Regions from separate parts of the Homo sapiens genome. Here region 2 is linked to region 1. Evidence: fine-mapped expression QTL. A gene starts in region 1. The other region holds a variant in brackets. All regions are shown on one strand. Distances are between the middles of the regions. Region 1 holds the start of GRIA3 (glutamate ionotropic receptor AMPA type subunit 3). Region 2 overlaps GRIA3 (glutamate ionotropic receptor AMPA type subunit 3).

The links. PIP is the estimated chance that this variant, and not a neighbour inherited with it, causes the effect.
Region 2: its variant is fine-mapped to the expression of GRIA3 in thyroid (GTEx, PIP above 0.99).

The regions. Positions count from the first base shown.
Region 1 is chrX:123,178,232-123,189,170 of GRCh38, reverse strand. It overlaps GRIA3 (glutamate ionotropic receptor AMPA type subunit 3), which reads right to left and starts at 4,893. Exons shown (of 16, transcript NM_007325.5): 1 at 4,527-4,893; 2 at 3,181-3,339. The coding sequence starts at 4,635.
Region 2 is chrX:123,307,630-123,315,629 of GRCh38, reverse strand. The region is part of intron 3 of GRIA3 (glutamate ionotropic receptor AMPA type subunit 3); the gene reads right to left. Among named protein-coding and RNA genes, the nearest start is that of GRIA3, 130 kb to the right of the region's middle. The variant C/T (reference allele first, on the strand shown) is at 4,210.

The sequences.
Region 1 (10,939 bases):
AATGGGAACATGTGCTTCAAATCAGGTAAGTCTCTTAGATAAACTTCAATCCATCTCTGAGTTGAGATCCCAAATTAAACACCTTTCAAAGCCAGTGTGGCTCTTATTGGCCTCGTAGGACATGGAATAAAGTTGGAGTCTGTCTTAAGCAAACCTCTTGGGGGTTGTGCAAAAAAATTGGTTTCTGATGAAGAAGAGTCTTTAAATAACTGATGCCTGGGATTCATCGCAAGGAAACCTTTCAAACACATTGTCAGAGGTTGTAGGGGTGGGTGATGTGGAGGGAGAACAGAGAACAGGGACACATATATGAAAGAATTACCCTTTGTTTATTCTTTGTGTATTCGTTTACCTGCACACCTACACCCTAGAAAGTGTGTGCCTGCCTCAGGATTGAGGGTGCAGGAAAGATCATGAGAAGAGATCAATTCTAGTGCTAAGGGAAGTTGAAACTAGGAATTTTGCATAGGAATAAGGGAAAGTTTCTTTAATTTTTGCCAGCCCATTCCATATTGAACCAGATAGGAGAGGTGGTTGGCCAGATTGAGACTCATCTGTTGTTTTCTGGAATTCTCCCTAGGTCTCCAGAGAAGGACAGGCCGGAGGATACAGAGGTTTCTCTTTGCACAATCAGGGCAATCATTTGGAGGAGTGGAACCTGGGGGTCACCTGTCAGGCTCCAGCACTGAACTAGAATTTCAACCCAGTTGGAAATATTTGATCTCCGCTTCCACAAGAAAAAGAACAATTAAAGCCAGGGGTAGAAATGAGAAACACCTCCAGGGCTTCTTTGGTCCCTTGAAATACTTGGTTTCTGCATTCCAAGACTATGGTTAGACGAGTCATCTTTCTCATACTAAGCTACCAAGCAGCAGCTGCCTAGAGACAGCTTTGAGATCTGGCCCCCATTCAATGATTGTGACATTCAGAGATGACTGTTTCAGGGACCAGAGAAGATGACAGCTTTCCTCCTCTGTCTTCAGAGAAAGCAACAGGCAGCTGGATACACAACACTGGTTTCTAGCTATTTTTCCTGCGTATGTCTGTGCATGCATACATGTGTATTTGACATAACTAAGGGCAAGGTCACGTTTTCATTTTCTTTTTCTTGTTGCCCAGTGAGCCACACTCCTTCTCCCGAACTCTCAAGCCCCTAGCCACAACCCAGCCTTGTAAGTGGAAATGCTATGAATTTACGGTGAGGGATTTTGATCAATTTCTTTTCCTTTCCCCTGGTTGTTCTCTTATTGCCCTGAGAGGTAAGGCAATAAGGCAACTCAATACCAATATGGATGACTTATTGCCTTTTCCTAAACCTGAGATTTTCACATGGCAAGAATCATTTCTGATTGCTTCTTGAGTGGGGTTCTGACAGTCCAGGGCTGGTGGGTGTCAATCTGGTTTGACCATAAGAACAGGACCAAAAACCTTGGAAATCAATCATTTCTGAGAAACCAAATGGTTCTCTTATCCCAGTTCTCATCAGTGAAAAGACACTGAAGGGAGTTGAAATAAATATTATTTGTTACTAATGGTAATAAACCCTGGTAGTTTAATGTATTTAGTTTTAAATCTGTTCTAATTGATATTTAGGAAGCTGCATTTGAGATTCAGCCTCTTGACAAGATCACAGTGCTGCAGGATTAAGAGTCAGATGCGTGTTGTAAATGCTGTGGAGACAGGCTGGGATTACCAAAATAAGATGCAAAGTATAGACAGACATTTCGTAACTTTCACACTAGCTGGAATTAATAAATTCCTATTTTTGTCAATGTCAGAAAGCCAAAGAAAGTCAAATATGGAGTATCTCAGAACACGTTCATATAAGGATCTGTATCTTCAGCTAAAATTTTCTTAAAGCTGACAACTGTCATATTTCTTGCAGAGTATGTTACCCCCATCCTCTTGGCCCAAGTCTTCAAAGCCAAGAAACCTGTGCCCTTGGAGAGACCCTTTCAGTGGTTTCTGGAAACCATGCATCCTTTGAGGCAGAAGGATTTAAAGAAAGTCATATACAAAGTTTCACCCATCCAAACATAAATATCATTTCTCCCTTGGAAGAGAAAGGAAGAAAAACCCCAAATTCCAAACTACATCAGCCATAAAAGCAAAGCATATTTTATACCATATTCAGCCTCATTGTTGTGAAAACTTTTAGTGAAATAAGCTTACATGAAGTATTCTCAGTCTTTCTCACGAAACATTCCATTCAAGTAAAACCATATGTCCAACAGGCTATTAGCCATTTAGGTTCCTTTGGTTGTATTTTACAAAATGTCCCCTTTTCAGAGGAATAATCACCCGGTACAACTAAGGATTTCAGAACCGGCTTTGGGCCTGATGAATTTCTTCTCTTTCCATATTCAGTTTTCCTGCTCCAAGCCTCCTCTCCTCCTGCCCCCTCTTTGCTCTAAATTAAGAACTGTGTTGTCTTTAATGATCATGGGGGTGAACAACACTAGGGGAGGCAGAACTAGCTTTCTAAATCATCACCTGATCACCATTTTCTCCCCTCCCCTCAGTTTGCTAGGCATTCATCACTTGCAATCAGTTTGTAGTCTTATGAGTTCCTATCAGAGCTCTCTCAGTAAGTAAGGTAATATTTGAGGACAGAAAGAGGCCAGGGAACCCAGCCTGTTCTGCCCCTCAAGGTCACTTGTTTGCAGAATTTCTCATATTTGCTTCCTACACATTAGGCAATTGTCAAATTCAGCTCGTTCCTAGAGCCAGGCACTAGCTTTAACAGTCAAGTGATGTACATCCTGAATTGACTCAATCAAGAAGCTGCTGCTGCTTTTTTAAATCTCATCTGAAGAAATTTCTCTGAACAACCGTGCTATTTTTTTCTTTCTTTCTTTTTTTTTCCCCAGTTAAAAAAAAAAGAGAGAGAGTGTTGGAGAAGGAACACACTAGGTTAGCATGGAGGAAAATGAAACTTTTGCATCAAACACTATTTGGAGCAGACTTTTGCCCACTGTCTTGAGTTTTTCCCACTGTCTTAAGCCCCTCAGCAGTATCATTTGGAGTTGATTTATGCAACATGAAACCGGATGGATTAGAGCCCCTAAAATATCTACTGAAGCAATCATCTCCCAGCACATACACAGACCCTAAGTGCCACAAGAAAGATGCAAATGAGGTCCCCAACGTCCCAAAGGGAGGAAAAGCAGATCTACTTACAAGCATTTGTCACGGAAAAACTATTGGAGGAATCCAAGTGATCTACGTGGTAATTCAAATGGAAGGGCTTCTCGGTGGTGTTCTGGTTGGTGTTGTATAACTGCACGGCAAAGCGGAAAGCGCTGTGCTCCTGCACTGTGTTTCTCATGAAAAGTCCACCTATAAGCAAAGGGAACGGAGATTTGGCTTGTGTTCCCCCACACTAGGGCCAGTTAGGAATTGGGGAACAATATAGATACCGGATACCTCTCAATGATACTGGGGTGTGGGATTGAGGATTGATATTCAACCTGTGTGTCTTTCAAGACTTGTGAACTCAGATTTTGGCCAAGAGAAACCTGGCTTTTCTAGACTGAAAAGAAGAGGCTAGAGAGAAGGGAGAAGAGACGAGGGAGCCGTTTTGGGTTAGGACGATGGAACCAAGAGTGAGACTTGGTTCTTTCTTAGTCGGCAGCCTTCTTTTTTTTTAGTCGCCCCCCCCCTCCGCCCCCCGCCCATCCGCACAGCTGGTCATCTTTTCATTGTGTGAAGGGAAAGGTTGGGAAGAAAAACAATATTGTTCCCCCTGCTACCCCAACCCGTTCCCCATAGCCACCCTCCCCCGTGACAATACAGGGGGTTGGTTCAGTAATGGCAAAAATTCTAACTTCTAGACTTGTAAATACGACAGAAGCCAAGATAACTCCCTCCAGGCGCCCAGGAGCCGGGCTCCAGACAGACACAGCGGCAATTCATGAATTCGTGGTCTGCGTGACTTCGCCGCTTGCCCGCTCAGCTCCTAGTCTCACCCCCGCCTCCTACCCCATCCACCACCAACGCCTGCTGCTGCCCGGGTCTGGGAGATCCAAAGTGGGCTCCACCTCCCCCAGCACCAGCCTGTCTCCCGACAGCCGGAGACCACGGACTGAGCACCCCGGGCCCGGGTTATGCGCCCTGGCGCGGCCAGACAGTCGGCATCACCCTGGGACAACTTCCAGGAGCTGCACGCACGCCATGGCAAAGTCCAGAGCAGCGAGCCGAAAAGCCTCGACTCTTCACCCCCTTGCAGCATCCCAGCCTCCTGCTCGCCTCCGGTGCTCCTCTCGGCTCGGAAAACCTAGCAGTTCACCCCCACTAGCCCCAGGAGACCCCTCTCTTGTCCCAGAGGCTCTTCAGACCAGCCACCTCGTTGAGGCTCAGATTCCCCCCGCCCCGCCCCCCGCCCCGCACCATCTCTGCCCGGTCCCGGCCCCAGTCCCAGTTCCCAGGCCACGCAGGACAGGGACCCACCGCAGGGAAAGCCTTGCCGGGGCAGTGGTCTCGGGTGAGGGAGAGCCTGGACCGACGGCTGGCTCGCTTGCGCTTACCTATGCTGATGGTGTTGGGGAATCCTCCGTGAGAATGACCCAAAAGCCCCAGGACTAAAAAGAAGACCGCCCGGAGCACGCTTTGCCCCATTTTCTTCTGCCTGGCCATGCTACGCCTAAAACGAAGCTGACAAGAGCATGGGCGCAACTCAGGAGTCGTCAAAATAATAATAGAAAAAGAAAAAGAATTCGCTGGCTCTTACACCCCCTCCCCTTAACTTGCTCTCGCTCACTCTTCCTTTCCACCCCACACTAGTCCTCCTCCTCCTCCGCTGCCGCCGCCTCCTCTTCTTCCTCTTCTTCTCTCTCCCTCTTACTCTCTCTCTTATTCGCTCGCTCTCTCTCGCTCGCTCTCTCTTCCTTTCTTGCTCCCTCTCTCTCCCTCTCGCTCCCAGGATCTCTCACACCCCCTCCCTTCCCCCCACCTCACTTCTGTCTTCACACCAATCTGGAAGGCGGGTTCATTGGCTGCAAGCTGGGTTTGCCAAAGCGATTTCTGTCCCTATGATAGAGAGAGAGAGAGAGAGAGAGAGAGAGAGAGAGAGAGAGAATAAAATCCTAAAACAGAACAAAACAAGCAAAACACTGAAAAACAAAAATAGAGAAGCAAAAGAAAGAGAACGAAAGAATAAATTATCAAGACAATCTGAGACTCTCTCCGCGCCCCCCCCCCCCCGCAAAAGATGGTAGGTCTAAAGAGGGGGGGAAAAAAAGGAAAGAGCGAAAAGGCTCAGTGCCGGTGAATTGGGCTCTTCCAATTGGGCCAGTAGGGGGATATTGATCAAAGTTGATCTGACGTGGAATTAAAGCCGCACACCGCTTAGCTCTACTGCAAACTGCAGCCCCGGACTGCAAAGCCTAGGCGCTGGCGTTTGTCAACACCGGAGATGGGATCAATAGAAATACACCACTCCTAACGTGGATCAACCTTTCAAGCTGCAACGTCCTCCCACCCTTTAAAAAAAAATAGCTGCATTGCCTCTGTGTTTGTGTGTCTGTCTTAAAGAAGGGGGGCCTTAGGAGGGCCATTAGTGGTTACTCCGGAGTCTTTGTAGAGACTCAGAGAAGCAGTTCCCATCACAATGCGCCCGAAGATGCTGCGCATGCCCGGTCTCTGCCGCTCCGCTTTTACAGCAGAGATCCGAGGGCGAGTGAGCAACCCCCACCCCCATCCCCGCAGCTTTGGGAGGCGTGTCCCTCCCCTTAAACTAGTGCTGAGGCCGGCTTGCGGGGGCATGGGGTGGGCGGTGCTGAGCAGTGATGGGCAGTATGGGGCTGACTTCTTTGGAGGGCATAGGAAAAAGTATGTGCGTAGAGGTAGTAACTAAAAGGTTAATGAAAAGGACGCTCAGGCTCACTGACCAAGGAGGAGGGAGGTGTGGGAATGAGCTGGTCTGGGGGTGGGGATTGAAAGTTGAGGCTGGAGAAAACTGTACCTAGCTGCATTGATCCCTTGGTGTTGCCTCTGGACTTAGCAGCCTAGGCCCCTGACTGATGACCTCAGAGGTTATCAATTCTTTCTGACTCTTCTTCCCCTCTGCTCTAAGGCGAGCAAAGAACCTATGAAGTCCTACAGTACAGACCGGATTTCAGTGACGGTGGCCTTCTCCATAGCATGCTGCGGATGAACCTCCTGGGCTATAGACTCCTCTCCCTAGCCCCTTTCTCCCGCAATGAGGAAAAAGAATCCTCTTTATCTCTCACGTTTTTCACTTTTACTTTACAGTTACTGTAGAAGGCATGGGTTTTATCCTCCCCACACCTGCTATTTTCCTTTTCATATCCTCTCCTCCTGGTCTAAGTGGAACATGAACTCTCCTGCCAGTGTAAAGCGAACTGATATACATCGGGGATAAAATTGGGAATATACAGGGGATAGAAGGACCCTGGAGCCCAGCTAGTATATCAGTTGCTACAGAACTTTGGATTTGGCGAGACGTAGTCTGGAGCCTGGAACAATGGAACAAAATGGCTTCAAACCAGAAAAATTGTCCTAGGCTCTTCCCAAATTTCTATTCATTCTGATAATGCATAATTTCCTCCCACCCACCACTCATAGAAATCTTTTGTCTCCATTTTGATATTTCATGGACAGGAGTGAAGGAGAAACATGAGAGTCTGAGGAGACTCATCTTTTCAGTGGAAGAAGCATTAGGGCAAAGCGGGTAGCAGAGGTAAGGTTGGTCATCCCCTGCCAAATGTAGACAGGGACATAGCATTATTCGGGAACATGGGCTTAGGAGGCATACACGTCCAGGTTCGAGTCTAAGTCCCATCACATACAGGCAGTGTGTGACCTTGAACAACTTTGTTAATCTGAACCCCAGTTCTCTCATCTTCAAAATGGGAATATTAATATCTTTCTTTATAAGGCAGTTGTGAAAATTAAGTAAGATAATTGATATGAAAGCATCTAATTCAGTGCCTGCCTCAGAGAAAAATCAATAAATGTTAATTTCCAAACTCCCTTCCCTCTTTCTCACCTAGTAAAAGTGCCCTCTTGTCCCCCAAGTTTCCTCATGCTGTCATCCTCCTCTCTCCTCATATTCCACATAACTTCAGACTCTGCTATCAAGTCTATGCCAATGTTCCACATTAAAATCTTTCCATTGTGGCTCCTCAAAAGGCCCGGGAGACAATCTTTACTAAGATTCTAATGGCAGGCAATGACAATTTAATATTAAAATGTCACATTTAAAGAACCTTTACTCTGTGCCAGGCACTAGGTGTTTCTCCTTTTTAGATAACACAGTTGCATTTTAATAGGAGCCTTCAATGCCTTGTCCCAAAGGAACAACTTTAATGAGGAGGTTTTAGTTTTGATTTCATGTGAGTGAACAATATATTTTGTACGAGGAGAAAGTGACTTTCAGCATGTCTCACTTCACTCCTGAAAGTAGCCACGTCCCCAGCCATGCTTGGCCAGCTGTAAGAGGAGGTGGAAGAAAAGATCTGTGGCCATCTTCACTGTCATTTGGCTTGAAGAGTGATGAGGGTGGCTCAGTAACTAAAGATGAGAGGCAGAAAAGTATTTTGGTGCCTATGCACTTGAAAACCCTCGAAGTCATGAATGTAAATGCCACCCATCCCTTCCATTGTCATCCTCCCCTGCCCAATACCTTTTTCCCCTCTCTTTTATCTGCTGCCACTCTTTCAATTTTTAGCTGTCAGTGGCAGCTGTTGGCAGAGTTGGACTACTCTCATCTGAGCCAGCAGGGGCACAGTGGTAGACTAAGCATATTGCTGTTGGTTGAAAAGCCTGTATAATACATGCAAATTCTTTAGCAATCGATTCCTCACCCAAAAGAGCAGGGAGACACTTTATAAACTTCAACTTTGATTTTCCAACGAGGGGTTAGAGATTATACTAGCAGCATCATAGCCACCAGAAGTTGCCAACAAAGCCCCAAACCTAGCTCTCCCTCTGTGGTTAAGAGTATCCCTGCTGAATTTAGGATTACCTGCTAGCCTTAGTACCTATGATCTGTACTTTTAAATGAGCTCTATGATATAGTTTAAATAGCAAGAAAATAACCATTGCAGTTTTTATCAAAAAGTAAAAAGTGTACTTCTCTTCATGAGCTTTGTGCTTGTTTCAGGCTTGAGAGGTGCACTTGGATAAGCATAAAGAACTGTTGGCCAGTGGAATTCTAAGAGGTGATCTATACCGTACAGTGAGCCTCATACTTGCCAACTTCATAAAAATCAGGAAAACAACAACAGAAATCATCCTATTTCATTGGAAGGAAACTGCTATACCCTTCGAAGAAAATGAAACCAAGATACTATATCCTTTGCCTAATGGGAGCATAATTTTCTAACCATTTGACTTGATACTTTGATTTCTTCAACATTTATTGACCACCTACTATAGGCAGACTTTGCTAAGCACCAGGAATGTAAGGAAGCAAGGAACAGTTTCTGCTTTTCATGAATGTCAAGTTCAAAGGAGGAGCAGATGTATTCACTGGCAATGACAATGCAATATGGCAAGTGCTCTGAAAATGGTAAGCACCAGGTACCATGGCAGCACAGAGGATGGTGTTTAACTATCTGAAACAAGGTACTTCCCTTATCCCAAACCCTTACAAACACAAGATAGAACAAAGTGGTTTCTAAGTACCCGTCTTGCTTTTATGTTTGATCATCCTATGATTCCATGAGGTGAGATTATTTTGGGGTTAGAAAAACTGTCCAAACTTTAGCCTAGACTCTAATAAAGGAACTAAGCTAGATACAACTGATTCTTTGTGGCCATCTTTTGCACTGTCACTTCCAGATTATTTGGGAAGAATAGAGAGTTTAGCCATATCTGGAGATTCAGGTTGGGTATGACTTCTAAGAAAGCTTAGGTCCTCTGACCTACTTCTCTATAGTTCCATTTTCTCCATTATATCACCCCTCCAGAAACCTCTGTGGAAATCTTCTATCTAAGTGTTGGCCTCCATGTTGTTAAATAAATCTACATCCCTGAGAAGCTAAAATTTCAGACACAGGCCTAGTTGGAGTTGCTTCTGTTGGAAGTGTATCTATGAGTCAGAGGAAAAACCTTATTAATTTGGATTTAATATGTCCAGAAATCGATCCACCGAAACTTCTAGAAGGAGACAGTTACACCAAGTGAGTAGTGGCTATGGGAGCAATTGTTTATCCTAAATCATTTTCAGATTAGCTTGCTTTTTATACATAAGGGTATTTAGAACTCCATGTTTTCCCTGAAGACATCCCCAGGAGCCATTTGGAGGAGCAATTAATTGGAAATGACCTGGTATTTTTTGTACCTCTCTTCCAACACCTTCCTCTCTGGACTAAACACTTTCACACCACCTCCTTTAAGCACCCTCAGGGTTAGTGACCATGCTTTGAATGGTCCTATATCAGTTAGAATACTTCATGCTGCAGACAAGAACAAATCCACTAAAACTGATATAAACACTAAGGGAGACACATTGGCTCACATAACTGGAAGGGCCAAAGGTATGGCTGACTTGAGAATTCATTAGACTCAATATTTCAACAATTTCATCAAAAACCTAATTTCTTTTCCTCTCTCCTTTCTGTTTCCCTGAAGATGGCAAAATGGCTGTAGGATTTCTTGGCTTCATATCTATGTCACATCATCTTGTATTAGTTGGCAGTGAATCATGTGACTATTCATGATCCAATCTTGTGGCCAGGTAATGCCATGCTTAGGCCTGAATTACCTGAACCAGTAGCCATGACATAGGGGACCAGGATTATGACCCATCTGTGCAGTTTAGTGTAGGGTCAGTCTTCCCACCACCACCAAATTACATGATTGATACACAATGAGGGAGAGAGATATGGAGGTTGGGAAACAATCACAATAACCACTGACATCCCTGTCTTCCTGAAGGCCTGCTCCCTGGGAATTGTGGGTGGTAATAATTTTATTCTTCAAGTGTCTACAGGCCCCTGAAGACTTGCCAAAATGGTTTGTCTTTGGTCTGTTGTAGGTAGACTCCTCAATGGTGAGATCCTTCTGTTACTTTAGTAGCTCAGCCCCCTAAATTTAGTTCAAGATGCATCTGCCTGATATTTTAATTCTGTTCTTAACAGAGTTATGTTATATTGAGAGTGCAGGGTGAGAAACTAATATAGAAATAATTTCTTTTCTAGGCAAATAGGCTTCTAGAGACTTTCAGGTAAAAATCTAGAGATTCCTCCACACATTCTCCTCAGGATAAGCAGAGGTGTCACTCTACAGACTATGAAACTGAGGAATCAGAGAGGTTAAGTGAATAGCCCAAGGTCATACAGCCATGTGTTAAGGATTGGCATTTCTTATCCCTCTAGGGCTTTATTCACCAGACCAGAGTTTCCTTCATGCTGTGATACTGAGGATGTGGATAGAACTGAATCATAATAAATACATTCTGCTGGGATGGTTACATCTTAGCAAGTAATTATCCCCTGGTAGACTCTGAATGGGCTTAAAAACTGTAGATGGAAATCACATGGCTTCAGGACTCCCACTTCTCACAAAGTGACATTCTTATAAGCTGCAATGTCCCTCTGATGGGAAGTGTTAATTTATTGTGAATTATTCCAGGTTACCTCCCAGAGATAATATTCTTGACATTTTTATTAATGTATACCATTTTACCCCTCTGGGAAAGTTAAAAAATGATCACTGGGAAACAGCATAGGCAAGTCAGGGGGAAATTAACCCCCAAACTAAAACTAGCCCCTCCTCCCAGCCCTACCTGGGGAGGGGTTGCATGTTTGAGTAGATTTGAGAGTTCTAGAGATGTTGAGGAATTATTGGTGCCAATTGTTTGAGGAGTTATGCTTTATACTCAACTGGAAAAATTTCCATTTTTTGAAGTACTTATGAAAATTGGAAGTTGACTCTGGATTCTGAAACTTACATGACTGGAGGTTAGGAACTG
Region 2 (8,000 bases), 130 kb before region 1:
CCCATATCTCAGAAACCTGATATACAAAAATCTGAACTCAGAGCCAGTACTTCAGGCTATTACTATTCATATTACAAAGTATACTTTCATTTAAAAATAATTCATGGAAAGACTTCTATAGCACATTTGAATCCACATTTTGTTGTTTTGTTGTTTGTTTTTGTTTTAACTTGATTTAAACCCTTTTATTTTCCATCAAAATCAATATAGTGATTGTCTAAATTTGAGACGCTAATACAGAAACTGTTCTGTGTGTGAAGAGTTTGATATGGGAAGATCAAGAACCCCTTTATATTTGCATATGGATGTCAGTCTGTGAATTTTATGGAACAAGGTAAAGACAAATATTCACCGACATTCAATCCTTAATTTACCGTTAGCAAATTAATATTTCCCTGAGACTTCCATTCCTTATAATTGTATTTGTTTAAATTTTCCTTTAATTAAGAGCTGACCCTCTGCAAATCTTCTTCTCCTTGCAGCTGCATTATTAGGATGAGTACTTGGCTAATTTGTGGAATCATTGAACAGAAGGTGACCCCAGTTTCCCAGTTGTTTGTGCTTTTTCTTCTCTCCCAATACAAATTGTCTCTCAATCCAAACGAAACTCTTATACTAGACTGTCCATGACTGATAACAGCTTCAACTGTGACCTCCTTCATGAAGGATGTATGTTTTAATATTAGAACCAAAGACTTACAATACAGGGGCAAATTGTAGACAGCCGTAAGTGATTGATCAAGTATTGTTTGGCAACTTGAGCTAACAGGTACCCCAATATCTTACTTGAGGCATTCCAAGTACTCCAATAGCTCACTCCAGGAGGCAGCTACTGACTACTAGTCAAGTGTAACCTTGGCTCTGAAGCTGGCAATGCATGTAATCCTGCCTTTTCCATTTTTCTCTTTCATCTTGTTCCTTATTTGAACTTTGTCTCCCTGTTGGTGAATTATGTAGCTCCATTCTCCTCTCTGTGAGCTAAGAAAACATGCCCAAATAGATATGTCAGTTTCATTGAGTGAAAGTAAACTTGCTTTGCATTGTCAGCTGAAAGGAAATTTAGAAGACCATCTGGAGTAGATTTACTTAACATCTGGGAAGAGCAGAATAGGCAAGCCTCTGATCCTCACCCACACAATATCTGATATAAAAAATAAAAAAAATAAAAATAACAGAAAGCAACTGGGGTTTGGATTGAAGGGGATGCTACAATGATTGTGTGTAGTTCCTTCATGTTTCTGTTTGGTATCTAAATAATTGTTCTGGGATAGACTGCCTGCGATGCAAACTCACAGAGGGCAGGAGTCATCTCAAAGTTTCTCCATGGACTGTTGAGCTCTTAACAGATGCCATGAGAGGATTAATCATGCCCATGAATAGGGTTTCTTACATGACATTTCCTCATTCGGCATCTTAATCCCTTTGAAATCCGTAATTTCCAGCTCTGATCTTGTGACTGCGTCTCCTAGAGAGCAAGTAGTGAGTGACATGGATGTTAGTAAGCACTTTATAGATACCCGGGGCAGAGAGCTGACCATAGATCACAACCAGAGAATGCACTTGCCAGCCCTAGTTGGGTGGCAGTGGGGGGAAGGCCTTATGCATGATTAAAAGGGGGCTTCACTTATGGGTTGGAGGAAGGAGTGCTACCAGTCAGCCACAGTACATCTTCTTCCCAGGTCCCATTTATTCCACATGGAACCTAGTGACTACAAAGAAGAAGATGACCACCCACCCTGCTGCCCCTTCTCCAGCAGAAGATGAACTTTGAAGAGATTCCCAGAAGTGAGTATATTTTATATTGAGCATCCATACCCTGAACTTCTGTGCAGAGTAGTTCACATTGTGGCCTGTGCCTATGGACTTGTAAAGTGAACTGACTGAAGTGAGACTTGAGCTCAGAAAGTATGTGTTTAGGTTCCACTAAGCAAAAGGCTTCTCATCAGGCAAGTCACTTATCTGGGAACATTCTTCAGCATTCTCAATTTTTAAAAAGCAAGGCCAAGATAAACCTCTTAACATTTCTGAGTTCTGGGTGTGAGGTATGAATGATGGTTACCAGTGAGAAGGAAAAGGGGGAAGGAAGTGGGGGTGAATGTATGCCAAAGATGAAAAGTGTCTGGATCTGAGTGCAAAGGACTGTAGCTTATTCTGCCTGCTGTGCCTCCAGGAGTGCTGAGACTCCTTGATCCTAATACCATTGGAGGGCTGTCAAAGGTAATATTAAGGGCAAACTCTTGCCTAGAGGGTACAGAGGAGCCAAAGATACAGTCCTGAGGACAACAGAGAACATGCTGTTCTCTTGCGGAAGACAAGTTCTTTTTGACTTAATACTGTGGTTTAAAATCTGCTTGGGAAACACCCAAAATGGGGTTCAAAACTCACAAGATAAATAAGTATTTTCATGTGCCATCCACCATACTAAAGAAACCCACGTAAAACACCCCCAAGATCAACTCACTTTGATTAGTTGTTTACTTTCAATTGAGTTTTTTCCAATGGGGATATGAGAGTGAATTTGGCATTATGGAGGCGGGTTATAGGCTAATGTCAAGGCCTTGGGTTCCAGAAAGAGTGGCTGAATCTTGTGTGAGCTGCAGAGAAGTCAGGCTGTTTGTGGTGGCCAGAGTTCTTCCAAGTTTCTCAGAATTCTCAAATATGAGAGCCAGAATTAGTGATGGTCCCAATCTCTTCATTGTGCCAATAAGAAACTGAAGCCCAGAAAGACAAAATGGTTTGCCCCAATGATAGATCCCAAACTTGACCATGACCACAATACTTGTCTTCTTTTAACTTTCAATATTAATGTAAAACAAAGTTTCTGTGGCATTTTCTGAATAAAGATTCATTTTGATATAGACTAAAAGTTAAAATCCAATAGGAATGTCATGATGGATATATCCCTTGCACTTTGCCTACAACACATCTGTGACTTCCTTAAGGGCTCTTCTCCTTTCCTTCAGTACCTTTGCATGGAGGAGTGAGAGAGCCCACAAACAAGTTTGTGTGTTAAAGCATATCTTCCTCCTCAAATCTAGCTGGGACTCCCATTTGGCACTGAGGCCCACTCTAATCTACGCAGGCTCCAAAGCCTTTGGCTTGGTTCACCCTGCTTACTCACACAAATTCTCATGCAAGGCACAGCCTTCTCCAGCATTTTCCATCTCTCATGATTTACTCTGGTTGCCCTCCACCACAAAGCCTCACTTCCATCCCACAAACCTTTCATTCATTAAGACTCACCTTAAAATACGTATCACTGAACAGATCATCTGATTGAGATAGTGGGAAACGAAGATTCCGAGCTCTCACATCCATCTTCTATTAGCCTGAGAATCTTAGGCTATAGATGGTTACTCCCATCTCTGAGGGATTATAGCTGAATGCCAAATTTAAATCATTTTTTGACTAAGAGATTTGTGGTTTTCTTGTATTGTGATGTATAATGTTTTTACTCTCATCCCTCAGGTTTTAAATTGAACTATTTTCCCTTGGGCTGTCAAGGCGGGGTCAAGGATAGAAATGAACATTTATTGTCTACTTTGGGCTGAGTACAGAGCTAACAATGTATACACATTATCACGTTTAATTCTTCCAATCTTAAAGAGTACATAGTTATCCCAAATAACCAGGTGAGGAAATTGAGGCTCAGAGACGCACATGTTCATGAAGAAAAACACTTAACTAGTCTGGATTCTAAGTTCGCACTCTTATTTCTTCCCCCCATCAGTGACTGAAATTATTCCAACATGTGCAGTTGTCCAGGAAAGTTGGAATCATACATTTTTCTATGTGTTACTCCATGGCAGGGAGGGCTCTAGAACACATTGTTGTGTAAATACCTGAAGATGCCCAGGATTTTTCAGGCTCACAGGGATACAGGCCATGCAATCAATTGTAAGTCAGTGCTTAAAAGAAACACAGTCATGGTTCTCTGGCTAATGGTATGTTTCCTGTCAGTTAATCACCAACTTTGTAATTGAGCTGGAGTTCCTAGACTGGGCAGGTTTTATTATTGTTTGTGTCCTTACTTATTCTTCACACTCTCTCAGATATCCCTGCCTCCAAAGCAGCGGTTTCTTCTGACTTTCTTATTTCTGTCAAATTTCCTAGTTACAAAATTTGAATACTATCTTGGAGCCTTCCACTGCCCTAAGAGTACACAAAGTCAAATATATTAATTCTTTGTGTTCTGCCACATTCTTTACG[C/T]TCTAATTAGTACCAGCTATTCTGAAGTTATTATTGGTACATGCTTGGGCTACTCCAGCAGTCCTCTTTCATGCAAGCTTCTCACTAAGGTCAGCTTTAACTTCTTCACTCTTTTGATTATGTTACAGCCATGCTCATTCTCAAAAACTTTCCAACCTTTTTCTTTGCCCATAGGAGAAAGTTCAGAGAAGGCATTATAAATGTTTGAACTTGCGTGCAATCTAAGATTTACCTTCTAAAAAAGTCTTGGGGACCTCATTAAAATACATGAGCATGTGGTTGTTTTTTTCCATTCTGGGACTCAGTTTCCTCATCTGTAAAATGATATTCTATTCCTGGGAGTCCCATAAGGATTGTATAAATAGGTACTGTCAGAATTTGCAGGACAGATCAAGAGAATTTCTTTTTTTTTTTTTTTTTGACAGATTCTCACTGTGTTGCCCAGGATAGAGTGCAGTGGCATGATCTCGGCTCACTGCAACCTCTATGTCCTGGGTTCAAGAGGTTCTCGTGCCTCAGCCTCCTGAGTAGCTGGGATTGCAAGTGTGTGCCACCACACCTGGCTAGTTTTTGTATTTTTAGTAAAGACAGGCTTTCGCCATATTGGCCAGACTGGTCTTGAACCCCTGTCCTCAAGTGATCCGCCCGCCTTGGCCTCCCAAAGTGTTGGGATTACAGGTGTGAGCCACCATGCCTGGTTGAGAATTCTATTTTGATAAGAGACAAAAGGAGGCTAGAATTTAGAAAAAAAGGAAAGATAATATGAAAGGAGGAGAGATAGAGAAAATATATTTCTAAAGATTTCTGCTCCCTTACCCTGATTGTTCCCAAATAATATTTCACTTGGAAATTAACACTTTGTCTAGAGCTGTGGAGCATAAAGCAAAGAGATGTAAGCAAAGCCAGCTCACCATTTGATCTAGTCTTCTTTGCCATTGATGGCATAGATTACTAAGAAGGTTGGCTGGCCAAGATGGAGGGAAAAGTCTAGATCTCTGGATGAGAAGTAAGCTGACTGGCACTAGCAGTCATCAAAGTCATGACTTTGGCTTCATTTAACCAGGGGATATACCCAGCTGAGCTAACTATAATATTTGCAAAGAACAAACAACCACATGGCAGTGACTGAATTTAGGAGTGCTTCAGCAAACTAGAATCTGGGGCTGGAGAGTTTACAGGGGGAAAGCCCTGAGTCACTTAGAGTTAAGATGACAACTCTTGAGATGGACTTCTGGGAAACCATACTGGCTAGGAATTTATTTGAATAAAATGAATCTAATTATAAATCACATAGCTAGCCATCATAATGACTGGGTCAGTGCAGGGACTAGTTGGCCATGCCCAAAGAGCTTCTATGCTCATTCAGGCAAAGTACTCATTGACAGAACTTAACAAAATGGTTCAGTTCCTCTTGGCTGGGCATCTGATCCCCTTGGCCAGTGTCTTAAGTCTTATGTATCATTTTGAGGAAAATGGAGTTGTCAGGTCCTGTGAAGATGAAAGTATTTATTAAGCTCTCCAGGAGAGTTTAGTAACCTGCCTAGGTGGGCAGGGATAGTGGATAAGAGGGAAAAAGTTAATGAGGACTACTCCTTTAGCTTGGAGACCCCACCAGAGCCAGCAATAGGCCAGCCCAGCAAGACTTGTTTCTACACAGCCACTGGGAAATGTAGGTGTGGGGCCCTTCTGGATCCCCAAGCTGTCCTACTTTTAAAGGCATCTTAAATTTGCCAGTGTTTTTTAAAACACTGTTTGACAACCCCCTTAGGCCATAAAACATGTATATATTTTGGATCAAAACCACAAAATCATAATGCTTTGGAATCTTCTTAGGGAAAACTCCCCATCTGCAGTGTTTAACTCTGTAAATATCAACATAACAGAGCATCCCTCAAAACAAATACAAATGTTCTTTGAAGTTTATTAGCTATTATTTGAGCAAAGAACACAATCAGCAGCAATGCTAAAGAGGAAAGGATTCAAGAATTACCTTTAGAGAGAAACGAGAAACAAGGCAGTTAGTTTCTCTGGAAAACTTATGGCTTTTTTTTTTTTTTCCAGAGTATCTCTCTGTCACCCAGGCTGGAGTGCAGTGGCACGATCTTGGCTCACTGCAACCTCCACCTCCCAGGTTCAACCTCCACCTCTCGGGACTACAGGCATGTGCCACCAGGCCCTGTTAATTTTTTTGTATTTTTAGTAGAGACAGGGTTTCACCACGTTGACCAGGCTGGTCTTGAGCTCCTGACCTCAAGTGATCCACCTGCCTCAGCCTCCCAAAATGTTGGGATTACAGGTATGAGCCACTGCGCCTGGCCTGAAAATCTATGTTTAAACAACTCCAGGAGTTATACGCCTTATGCCTCAGAGGAGAAATGGGCTTGCTCTGCCTGGCATGGCACTGATGCACTGATGAAATCTGGGTCCTCTTCAAGGGGGTCATTGCTCTCCACTGAGGAGGTAAATAGCGCAAAAGGCATATTTCCTATAACCTTAAAGTTGTGGCAACTGCCCAGCTTAGCTTGCCCCACTTGGATAGAAGATTGTTTTTCTTAGCATGAAATAAATGGATTGTGGCTTGGATGATGTAGCTGCTTCCGTTGTCTCAACCACTGATGCAGATCACAGCATGAGTGATGTGGCGGCAGCAGCCATCCAGAACCACTATGAAAGTGGGTGCGATGAATGGAGTGGCTGGATACGAAATGAGTTTGGCCTGCATGATTGGCTTCAGGTGCCCAGGAAGGCTTTTTTCCAGTAACCCAAGTCCTAAGAAGAATACTCTACACTAAGGTTCACATTTGTCACACCCTCTGCACAGCCCTGGTTACCCTAAAAATTCTTTTAGCCTTAATATGAAAGGATGCTATTGTTGACTGCCAAGAAGAGAGGTTGATGTGCCACAATGTCTTATTTCAAGCAGCCAAGTCGGGTCTAACTCATTTGGGAAATGAGCATATGTTTTTGCTACTTAAAGTGTGGCCTCTACATCAGCATATCAATTACAGAGAAGACCCTAAAGATGCTCTACTTGCTACTTAAAGTATGGTCTATGGATCAGCAGCATTGGCATCACCAAGGCTGATTGTTAGAACTGCATACTCTTGGGCCCCACTCTAGACTTAATGAACCAGAATGTACATTTTAACAAGCTTCTCAGGTGATTCATTAGCCCATCAAAATTTGAGAAGCACTGGCCTAGTCATTCTTGTATAACGACTGAGAACTACGCTTTGGCTGGTTAACACAGATTGGTAATTCAAGAGCAGGAAAGGCCCAGGCTGCAGTGGAGATTATGGATGGGACATGAACAGTGTAGGGCTAGCAGGGGACCAGGACATGATTTGGCAAAGTTTAGAGAGTGACCAACTTGCTCAACCTAGGCCCAAGTCAAAGCTGTTAACATGCTGAAAAATTTATGTAGATGGATCTAGGACATACTGAGTTGCAAGTCAGGGTCTTCACTACTGGAGATATTCCAAACAAGGCAGACCCAGGGAAAATCAACACTACTGGGCTGGAAAGAACTTTTCAGTACTCAGTCCAAATGAGCAGCACAATCTCATCTATTAACCTGTTGTCCGTTGCCTTTCCTATCAGCCATGGAGGCTCACAAAGGTCTGTAGCCAACGAATTCTTGGCACCGAGACTACAGCGCACAGTGGCTTCCCACACAGGTAGGTAGGAAGGGCTGCATGTAGTGAAGATGCTGGACTGAATCCTAGAGTAGGGAGGGGCAAGAGATCCAGAGGACAGTCATCAGTCCTATCTGCCTGGGCATCTGATATGAA